4 separate regions of the Homo sapiens genome follow, and regions 1, 3 and 4 are each linked to region 2. The links come from fine-mapping of genetic effects on gene expression. A gene starts in region 2. Each other region holds a variant in brackets. All regions are shown on one strand. Distances are from middle to middle.

Evidence for each region. PIP is the estimated chance that this variant, and not a neighbour inherited with it, causes the effect. A credible set is the group of variants that fine-mapping cannot tell apart.
Region 1: its variant is the best candidate, but not a certain one, in a credible set for the expression of LINC01474 in visceral fat (GTEx, PIP 0.55).
Region 3: its variant is the best candidate, but not a certain one, in a credible set for the expression of LINC01474 in breast (GTEx, PIP 0.51).
Region 4: its variant is the best candidate, but not a certain one, in a credible set for the expression of LINC01474 in whole blood (TOPMed, PIP 0.64).

Annotation. Positions count from the first base shown.
Region 1 is chr9:72,897,358-72,900,051 of GRCh38, forward strand. No RefSeq gene overlaps it. Among named protein-coding and RNA genes, the nearest start is that of LINC01474, 25 kb to the left of the region's middle. The variant C/T (reference allele first, on the strand shown) is at 1,449.
Region 2 is chr9:72,873,043-72,875,736 of GRCh38, forward strand. It overlaps LINC01474 (long intergenic non-protein coding RNA 1474), which reads right to left and starts at 1,067. Exons shown (of 4, transcript NR_121181.1): 1 at 1,026-1,067; 2 at 1-113.
Region 3 is chr9:72,930,783-72,933,476 of GRCh38, forward strand. ALDH1A1 (aldehyde dehydrogenase 1 family member A1) reads right to left here. Exons shown (of 13, transcript NM_000689.5): 3 at 97-237. Among named protein-coding and RNA genes, the nearest start is that of ALDH1A1, 21 kb to the right of the region's middle. The variant G/C (reference allele first, on the strand shown) is at 1,471.
Region 4 is chr9:72,808,924-72,811,617 of GRCh38, forward strand. The region is part of intron 18 of TMC1 (transmembrane channel like 1); the gene reads left to right. Among named protein-coding and RNA genes, the nearest start is that of LINC01474, 64 kb to the right of the region's middle. The variant T/C (reference allele first, on the strand shown) is at 1,354.

The sequences.
Region 1 (2,694 bases), 24 kb after region 2:
CTTGACTTGTCTCAAGCACCCACAGATAATTTTGTGGTTTGGTCTTCAGAGAGACACCACCTCTGCTCTTCCACAGAATGTCAGAATGGTAAGTGAACTCTTTTCCCTCCCTTGTGTCTTGACTCAGGATATTCTCCAGGATGCTACAGTCCTTGTGTCCTACAACAGAAAGCTTTCCTGCATTCCTGGCAGTCACTAAATTCTGGTATCTAGAAAATTTAGTTCTCATTGCCAATTTCCCTTTCAATATATTCTTTCACCACCAGACTGGAAAAGCTCAAACACGTCTCCAGAGAACATTAAAAAATCCCAAGGCATTCTGTTCTTGTGTTAGTTTGCTGAAGATAATGGCTTTCAGCTCCATCCATGTCCATGCAAAGGACACGATCTCATTCTTTTTATGGCTGCATAGTATCCTATGGTGTACATGTAGCACATTTTTTTTTATCTAGTCTATCATTGATGAGCAGTTGGGTTGATTTCATGTCTTTGTTATTGTGAATAGTGTTGCAGTGAACATACATGTGCATGTATCTTTATAAAAGAACGATTTATACTCCTTTAGGTGTATACCCAGTAATGGGATTTCTGGGTCAAATGGTATTTCACATCCTGCACATGTATCCTGGAACTTAAAATAAAATAAAATTTTAAAAAATCCCAGGATAAATCAGTAAATGAAACTCTAATAGCAAATGTGTTTCATGTGAAAATGTAACCTGGTCATGTAGTATACTCTGAAAAAGCCAGGAGAACTAATTTGCAGAATTGCATTTCTAAGTGTTCAAGTGAAATTAGACACTCAAAACATTACACACATTGCCCAGACAAAAGATCTTTTGAGTTCATTGCTCCCTCCTGAATTATGTGAAGAAATGGCTAAAATTCTCTGAGTTGGTTCTATTTGAGTTGGTCACAAGAATTTAAGAAAAACGTTTAACCTGCCTTCCATTTCTTGTTGGCTGTTTCAAAATAAAGCCAGAGGTATGTATTCAATAAAGCCAGAAGTATGTATCCTTAGAAGATAACAACAACAAAAAGACAAAACAACAACAACAACCACAACAACAAAAGAGAAAAAAGAAAAAGAAGAAAACCGAACTAGATTAGACATTTGTGAATGAGTATCTGATACCTGATGTTGTCTCTGCCTAAAAAAGTGAATTCCAACCTCTGTCACTTAGTTTGGTATTCCTGGAGATAAAAATACTTTACCATTTGTACACTGAGGACAATGAGATCATAGTTATGACCGCAAAACTGAATTTTTCAAGATGAAATTTCTTACTGGAATTCCTCTAGCACATGAGCTAATAAGATACTTTTTAACTTTTCAAGGTTTTAAGAATTACTACCTGTATGGCTTTAATATAAATAATGAAATATAATACAAATAATGTCTAGAGACTCAGAACGAGCCAATATAAAACAGATATTTTCTGTTTAAT[C/T]CTGTAATGTCTTATTTATACAATGAAAATTTTCTAATATTTAAACTTGCTTCTGGCTTTTGTCTTGTTCTGTCCTCTGCTTTCTTTGTTACACATTTTAAAATGTTCTGGTTGCATGCCATTACAATATTAACTTGTCTACCTATTAATTTATTTACACGTGGCTTTAAACACATCTTTTAAAATGTAGACACTGTCTGGCTTTAGGAAAACACAACTCCCTCTGTGTTTGGACACTTTTCCTTCTCATTGTCCAAAGACCTTTCAGTTCTCCCCAAGGCTTTGGTTTCTTCAGTTTTCAAAAGGGTAAACATGTCCCAAATCTTACGAGGTAGTCCAAATTGCAAAGTTTATAGGCCAACATAAGTTTGAAAAACTCTCGAAATGGGAGTTAAATTATTTCCTGTAAAAGAAGCCAATGAACTTCATTTGTTCTTACATTGTTACACTTGACTGCAGCAGCTAGTAGTGTCCTAATAATAGAGGCACTGAAGTGTCTGTTAATGTAAAATGATAAACTTATATAAAATCTGAAAAAAATGTTATCCTAAGTTGCCAAACTAAAAAAATTTTAGAATGTGTATAGTTATACACAAATGTTCATTTCATTTGGGCCTAAATCACTTTGTATATGGAAGCACAACAGAAGAATGAAAACACAAGCAGCAATTCTGTTATGAGGGGGTAAATGTGTAAGCTTGGTGTAGTTTCATGTGGAGGACATTTTTTTCAGCTGCTCTCTTTTGATTCCCAGATCTCTCCTTAGAACTCTAAGGGTTCCCTCATTGCATAGGACAGCAAGGGTTTTTATTTTTATTTTTATTTTTGAAACAGGGTCCCACTCTGTCACCCAGGCTAGAGTGCAGTAGTATGATCATGGCTCACTGCAGCCTCGACCTCCCAGGTTCAAGCCATCCTCCTGCCTCAGCCTCTCATGTAGATGGGACCACAGGTTTGTGCCCCTATGCCTGGCTAATTTTTTTTTTTAAATAAAGGTGGGATTTTGCCCATTGCCCAGGCTGGTCTCAAACTCCTGGGCTCAACAGATCCACCTGCTGTGGCCTCCCAAAGTGCTAGGATTACAGGAGTGAGCCACTGTATTCAGCCCAGCATGGGTTTCTTAATGTTAATTGGTGGTAACTGAGGAGGTGAGGGAGAGGAGACAAAGTCTCTGCTAATTTGGAAAAAAAAAGGGGGGGCTCTATTAAAACTAAGAAGGTTGCAGGACTTCTCGAAACCTATAATA
Region 2 (2,694 bases):
ATACAGTCCTGTTCTTTTTGATCCTTCATATGTACCAGGCTAATTATGAATTAGTATTTTGGCCTCTCTCAGTCTGAATGTTGCTGGTAGCTTTTTTCTCTCCCAGGTCCTGACTTCACAGATAACAATCCACAATTAAACTCATTTATTTAATAAAGCTTCAGTGACAGTAAAGCTTCCTATGTTGATGTTTACTTATAGATTTGGGTAATAAACCAACAGATGGTAGATACAAAAAACTGAGTCACAACAAGCATATCCTAATAGTCTGCTAAAGTAAAAGATTGAATATAAAATAATAACTATTCTATCCAAGCTATCTAAGCCTAGATAATGAAATATTTAAAAACCTTGCCTAGAAAGCAAATATTCCCTTTAGAATTTTTTGAAAAATACCTAGAAAAGTTATTTGAGGGCAGTTTACTTGCATTCCTCAAATTGTACAATTGGCAATTTAAACGAAAACTTTCTACTGACCTTTGAAGTCTCTTGAAGTTTTTTTTGCTTGTTTATTTTGTTTTGTTTTTAATTTAAGAAAGAAGAGGCATCCAGCTCTGCCTTTTTCCCTCATTAAGACATACCAACAGAAATAACTGGCTGCATTTGGTCTTAGCCAATATCATATGATTATTTTTAGGGATTTTTTTGGCCCCCACACAGTGCATGGTTGAACTGCCAAAATATAAATCAAGATATGAAACTTACTACATTCTTCAGAATTAATAAATATTTTCCCTGGTTAAAGCAAGACTCCCATAAGCAAATCATCCAAAATAAACTAGATTAATTAGGTCCAGAATGGATAAGATAGAATATTCACAAAGGATAACACTGTATACAATTATAAATATTCATTCCTTTGTGTTGCTAATTTTAGATTAGGTCAGCCTGTGGATGTATTAGTCTGTTCTCACACTGATATAAAGAACTACCTGAGACTGGGTAATTTGTGAAGAAAAGGGGTTTGACTCACAGTTCCACAGGCTGTACAGGAGGCATGGCTGGGGAAGCCTCAGGAAACTTACAATCATGGCAGAAGGGTGAAGGGGAAGCACGCATATCTTCACATGGTGGCCGGAGAGAGAGAGAGAGTGAAGGGAGGAAGTGCCACACACTTTTAAACCATTGGATCTCATGAGAACTCACTCACTATCACGAGAACAGTAGGAGGGAAATCCACCTCCATGATCCAATCACTTCCCACCAGGTCCCTCCTCCAACATGTGGGGATTGCATTTCGACATGAGATTTCGGTGGGGACACAGAGTCAAACCATATCAGTGGACATGTAATGAAAATGAAAGAGCCTAGCACACTTTAAAAATGCTCTTCATATCTCGGTGCACTGACTAAGATGGCAGGGCAGGCTTCAAATGCCTGCTCTATCGGTCACTACTGTGCAGCTAGGCATCCACTAAACTCTTTGTGCCTCAGTGCCCTAACCTATAAAATAGGCATCATTCCAGCTTGTACACACCATAAGGTTTTGATGAGGATGGGATGAGATCAGGTTTCTAAGGTACTTGGTGTGTAAATAAGCTCTTAATTGAAAATCATATAGTATTATTAATGGCCAGTGATTTTGTTTCATTGCTTAACTCTGCCAGGATGTAACTGTGGGGCAGTGATTCTCACTCCCCCAACCTCAGGAGACATTTGGCAATGTCCAGAGACATTTTTGGTTGTGGGGGGGCTACTGGTATCTACTGAGTAGAATTCAGAGATGCTGCTAATACCCCACAATGCACAGGCAGCCCCCACAGCAAGACTCAGACAGCCCCAAATGCAATAGTGCCAGGTTGAGAAACCCTGCTCTAGTGGGCCTCCTTTTTACTGAGTGTATGTTATACAAGAGTGTGACTTTGTGTTTTGTGCTCTCTAGTTTACTTTCTGCTCCTCTCCCCAATGCTCCCAGACTGTGAACTCCTTGGGGGCAAGTTCTGAGTCATCGTTACTGTGGCCATGCCTGCAATGTCCAGCCCAAGTCCTGGCCTAGACGAGGCCTCAGTAAATGCTTGCTGAAGGGTATTTTAAAACTGCTTTTCAGAAACTCTATTGTAAAACACTAAATCTACCAATGGGGACTATGCATCGATTATTACAGTTCTGAAACTATGGTAGTTTCAGTACATTTGTTCTGACAAGGTACGAGAAAGTTTATGGCACGGTCATCACAGCACATGTTTTGGAGTTGGAAAGACCTCAGTTTGAATTCTACCCTCAATTTACCACTTAGCCTTTTGTAAGTTATAAAAATGTTGACAATAATGCATTTATTCCAGGGATGCTGTGAGAGACTTTATAAGATGGTCAGTGTGAAGAGCCTAGCTCAGAAAATAGTTCCTAGCAGCTAGGATGTGCTATGACTTCAGGCAAGTTCTCAACCCCTACCTCCCCAGCCACAGCCTTCTCTGTAAAGGGGAGATAATAACTTCCTTGTATGATGCTAAAAGGATTGAATCAGGCCATGATGTGCTTAGCAGAGTTTAATAAATGGTGACTATTATTATTATAATCTTTTCATTTCAGTGGCAAAAAAACTGAAAAAAAATAAATAGTTCTCTGTCTTGTGTTTTTCACTTATCCCATCTCTTTTATTAATACTCCCCAAGAGCAGCAGGAAGGAAACAAAACAAAACAAGAGAGGCCAAGAAATGCATTTTAAAATATTTTTCTCATATTCCAAAATAGTGC
Region 3 (2,694 bases), 58 kb after region 2:
GCATATAGTGATCCCTAAAATCAAAACAACTTGCCATTTCAAACGCTGAATGCTTTTGAGAGCTCTAGCTACCCATCCAGCTTGGATAATACTCACCGCCAGCAGCAGACGATCTCTTTCGATTAAATCAGCCAACTTGTATAATAGTCGCCCCCTCTCGGAAGCATCCATAGTACGCCACGGGGATCCAATCTGAAAAGCCTGTCTTGCGGCCTTCACTGCCTTGTCAACATCCTCCTGTAAGTCAACAGGAATTCAATTCAGTAAGCTAAACATATTAGGCAAGCAAATTTAATGCCAATAACCCTGTAAAATAGACTGTAGTGCCTCATAAGCAGGCACTGTGTCTCCATTATCCCAAAGTCTAACACATTGCGCACATTCAACTACTGTATGTTGGAATTACTCCTGCTGAATAATCTTTACATGATGAGCTCCACGTACCTAGCACATGCTGGATTTCCTAGAATATAAGTGTTTTATGATTTTAATAGTTGCTATCATCTGAGTGCTTGCCCTGTTTCAAGTAATGTTCTGATGACTTTATACCTATTAGCTCATTTAATTCTCATTAATTTTATGGCACAAATATGTTCCCTGTTTTACAGATGAAGAAACTAAAGCAAAGAGAGACGGGAGCTTTGCTCAAGGTTAATAACTAAAAGTGGCTGAACTGAGTTTTAAAGGGAGCCCATCTGATTGTAGAATCTTTGCTGTTTACCACACATTATACTTTCTTAGTGACTGGGTTACAGGAATTCCAGGTCAAGCTCAAGATCCAAAATAATGAATATCTTCCTTGGTCTCTGGTGACTCAACAGCCTGTCCACTTTCATGAAGAGCCTATTGAAGGGTGAATAAGAACTTTGCTTTGCTGTTGAAGAATAAACCTTAGAAACATGTGCTCATTCCTCTTGTGCAGAGGGAACAGGGCATGGAAATAGTGGAACTAATAGAGTAGGATGTGCATGTGACAACCTCTCATTTCCCAACTGGGTACAAAGAGATCCTTTTAAATCCCTAATCCGATAAAGAAGTCAGTTTCTTATTAAAGATGCATGGCTTAAAACTACATTAATTCAAGTAAAAGTCAAAGAGTAAAGTGACTCCACATTCAGTGTAGCCTCCTGTCCTTCACTCTCATAGTGCCTTCACTCAATTTCTTTCTCTGTTGTGTTTTTCTACACCAGATATATTCTCTGGTTCTTTTGCAATTCACCTCAGTTACAAATATTGCCCTGACCACTCCACTCCCCTGCAGATCCCTGTTCAGACCTCTTCTGAGCTCTTACAGAACATACCTACTACTACTGCAAACACCATAAAGGAATATATCATTCCAGTGTTCTTTTGTACATAGAACTGGCCACTACATGGAATTGTATAGCTCCACAAATAGTGGCTATATCACAGGCCAGTAGGTTGCAATATTTTGCAGGAGACACAATTCCCTTTAAGAATTGGGGGAGA[G/C]AAAAAGTAATGACCCTAGATTTTTTTAAAAAATTGTACACAATTAAGCTAAATCCCATCTAAGGAGATATCTTCCCCTCAAATGGACCTCAAATTAACATCCTCCTCCTTAGGCTATATTCAATCAAGAAGACCCACACTTACAAGTCTGTGAATTAAAATACAAAAAAACTATTCTTCTAGTATTTATCACCAAAATAATATGATCTGGGGCAAGAGAGATATTTTAGAAGCACAATCTGGTCTGATTAAGTAATAATATTTACTGACTACAAGCAAAGATTCTTTCAGTGTAATACATCACACACTGATATATCTCACTGTCTAACTTTTCAGAGAATGATGATATATACAAAATATATGTATTTATTGCCTGCCTTTCCTGAGAAATACATATACAGTGCATATTTGCGGCATTCAGTTAATCACATTGATTGCTTATATTTAGACATTGTTTCATGCCACACGTTCTAACTTTTTCCTAAATTTACAGAGCACTGTTTGAAAAAAAGAAAAAGCAAACCACAAAAATCTGAGATTGTCAGCATGATCTGTGGATACCAGAGCTTATAAAATACATGCTGGTCTGTGTTTAAACAGATCTGTATGACACAGCTTTCATTTGGATCTTTCTGTTCAGTGTCCTGCTATTGGTCTTAGCCAAATATGGGCTATCATAGGGATCTTGGCCTCCCAAAGGGATACGGAGAACTGGCTTCAAGATAAGTAACTCTCCCATATGGAAAGCACATCCCTAAAGAATGCTGCTATAAATAAAGATGTTCTTATGATTATGTCCTTTGGATCATGCGCCCCCTTTTCTCACATCTTATATGTAATCTTGCAGATGCAGAAATACAGTAATGTTAGTTAATATATAGTTTGATATGAAAACAACCCAGATTTGAATTCTGATTCCTCTTCATTAGCTGTGTAAACCTTGAGGCATCTAACCATTCATCCCTCTAGCTAAAGGTTTGATAAATATTCGACTCTGCAGCATTCTCATCATCCCTCCGCTAAAGACAGCAGAGTGAAGTAAGAAGATTGTCCTTTTGGAATATTCAATCAAATGGGAGAGACATACAATCAAATCACTATCCCAAAACATTATTATAAACCATGAAATATGTTGTGGCATGACTTCTCTAAGGTTCAGCTTTCTTTTCTTTAAAATCAAGGTATGTTGCTTGGTGTGGTGGCGTGTGCCTGTAGTCCCAGCTA
Region 4 (2,694 bases), 64 kb before region 2:
CTCCATCACCCTCATTGAAAGTGCCTCCTCGGACTGGCCAAAAGCAGTTAGGTAATGCTCTTCGGTGAACGACAGTGAGGTAATGGCTACAGATACAGGATGCTCTTGTGTTGCTTTCCCATTCTTTGCTATGAGGTATTCAGCTGGCTTGGTTTCATTTCTATTTTCCTTACCTGATTCAGCTCCTCTGAGGCAGACATAAAAATTGCCATTTCTTCCTTAGACCATTGCTTGGCTTGTACTTACCTTTTATCCCTTGGCTGCCTTCTTCTTAAGTGGCAGAAAATCTGAGTGCAAATATGAAGTCAATATTACATGACCTGGATGCATAAAAGCTGTAATTAAATGACTGTAATTTATTATTTATTGACTGCTGACAGTGTTCCTGGGTTAGTAGAAAGTACAGGAAAAAAGACAAGTTCCTGTTTTAGGTCACAGAGAAGGAATTTTCTCCCACGTTACCTTTGGAAGGCTCAAAAAAGCTCTGTCAGAATCAAAACAAGTTTTAAAACATTAATGATGGATGACGAATCTTTGATGTAGATCCCATTGTCATTGACTTACCAAATGGATAGCTTACACGGGTGAGGGCCTACTAGGTGCAAGCCATTATGAACAAACTCTGTGCTAGGTGATAAAGGAATACAGGGATGTAGAAGATGTAGACTTACGTAGAGGTTGCAAATTTGGCCTGCAGGGTAGATTCAGCTAATGGATATTTTTGTTTGGTATGCCCAGTGGTGGTGTTTGTTTTTGTTTCATTTTTTATGAGCTAATATTTTAAAATGAGAGCTCTTACATAAAAACACATGGATTTATTGTTTTTCTTGAAAGGCTGGCAACATTAAATCTGTATTCCCACTAGGGAGAAATTGGCTGGAGTTGAGAAACCACTGCCATCTGCAGTTGGGATATTCATTCTCCAGTTCCTCATACTCTTCACCACTCTTTTCTCTTACAAGCTCCCGATATAAATAGAGAAATCAATTGTATGGCCCTTGAAGAGAAAGTGTGTGTGTGTTTGTGTGTGTGTGTGAGAGAGAGAGAGACAGGCGTGCATCAGTAGAAATGCAGACACAGAGGAGGAGACATTTGAACTAAGTCTTGAAGAATGATCAGGATTTCAAGAGATGAAAGAAAGAATTCCCGGTGGAGGGACAAGTGTAAGACAGAGCACCAGAGATAGATAGTGTGGGCAATCCAGGCATAGATTAAAAAAAAAAAAAAAAAAAACTAAAATGAGGCTGTTTTAGAGCAGAAAAGGCTAATAAGAATGTTTCTCTGCTATTCTCCTAGACCTGCTAATCAATAATATGGTTTCAGAAAGTACCTGTCATGAAGGGAAGGACAACC[T/C]GAGATAGGCAGAGGACATACTTGAGAATTCTGTCAGAAATAAAAGATAAAATCATGGTCCTTTCTACTGTATGCATGCATGTGCATGTATACACACACACAAAGCACATGATTTTTTTCTTCTGAATTCCAAAAATAATGCCAGTTTATTGTAGAAAATTTGGAAAATATAACAAAGCTAATATGAAAGTAAAAATCATAGGTAATCTCTGCCACTAATGAGATTAATTATTTGGATTGTTGAATCAAATAGTGTTAGATAACAAGTGCTACATATTTATATATAGTAACAGATTTTTATAAATATACACATATATACTTTTGTATACGTATATATGTGTGTAAACAGGTAGTAGAGTAGACTGGTTACTTGCTTTTATTTGTTTTACCTAACACTGATCATTTCCCAATGCTATTAACTGTTGTTTTGTAACATACCTTTTAAATGGTTGTATAATATTCTGTATGCAAATGTAGTATAATTAATCTAATTAGTTTTTAATTTGCTTTAAGTTGAACTGTCTAATTATTCTTATGATAATAAGTGTTGTGATGACATTTAATTATATCCATGTACATAAGTATCTTCATAGATAAATCATAGTGGATGTACAAATTATTTTCTTATGATAAATTTCTCTGAGTTGAATTGCTCAGTCACAGTAGAGGGCTTTAAAAAAGTCTATTCACTTTTATTACAACAGCCTCTGTAGAGACTCTGCAGATTTCAGCATTAGATTCAGAGATCTATAGAATGCTAAAGTTAGGTGGATTTTGACACAACCAGTTGTAATGCATGTATTTAACATATGAAAAATTGCATCTGTGAATTGAAATGAGGTTCCTAAGTTTATGTAGCCAGAGAATAATAAGGACAATGAAGTACACTTCTGGACGAAAATGTTATGTTAAATGTATTGATTTCTGTACTGGCTCTATCTGAGTAAGCTGGGTTAAAAGGGATTGTGAATATTTTTCAAGACACAAATTTATGGTCATAATGTTATCACAACAAACCTATGAAGATTAACTAAGGTGGAAAAATTACTGGCTTGGAGCAGATTACCAGACCAATGTAAGTTAATGTAATGTAAGTTAATGTCTCCAAAGGCTTCTCTGAGCACAGTTCTCAGTGTTTCAGAAGAGTTCATGAGGAGTAGAATAGTTTGTCCCTAGGAAGGATTTTAACTGCTCTAATTTAATACAAAGTGTGCCCTCTTGTAAACTTTGGGTTTTCTTTGGCAGTTCAATGCAGAATATCTTTATCTTCACTTCAGTTTTCATTGACACCATTCTTACTATTTACCAGCAAAGCAAGTAAAGAATATTCAAGAAGAAATA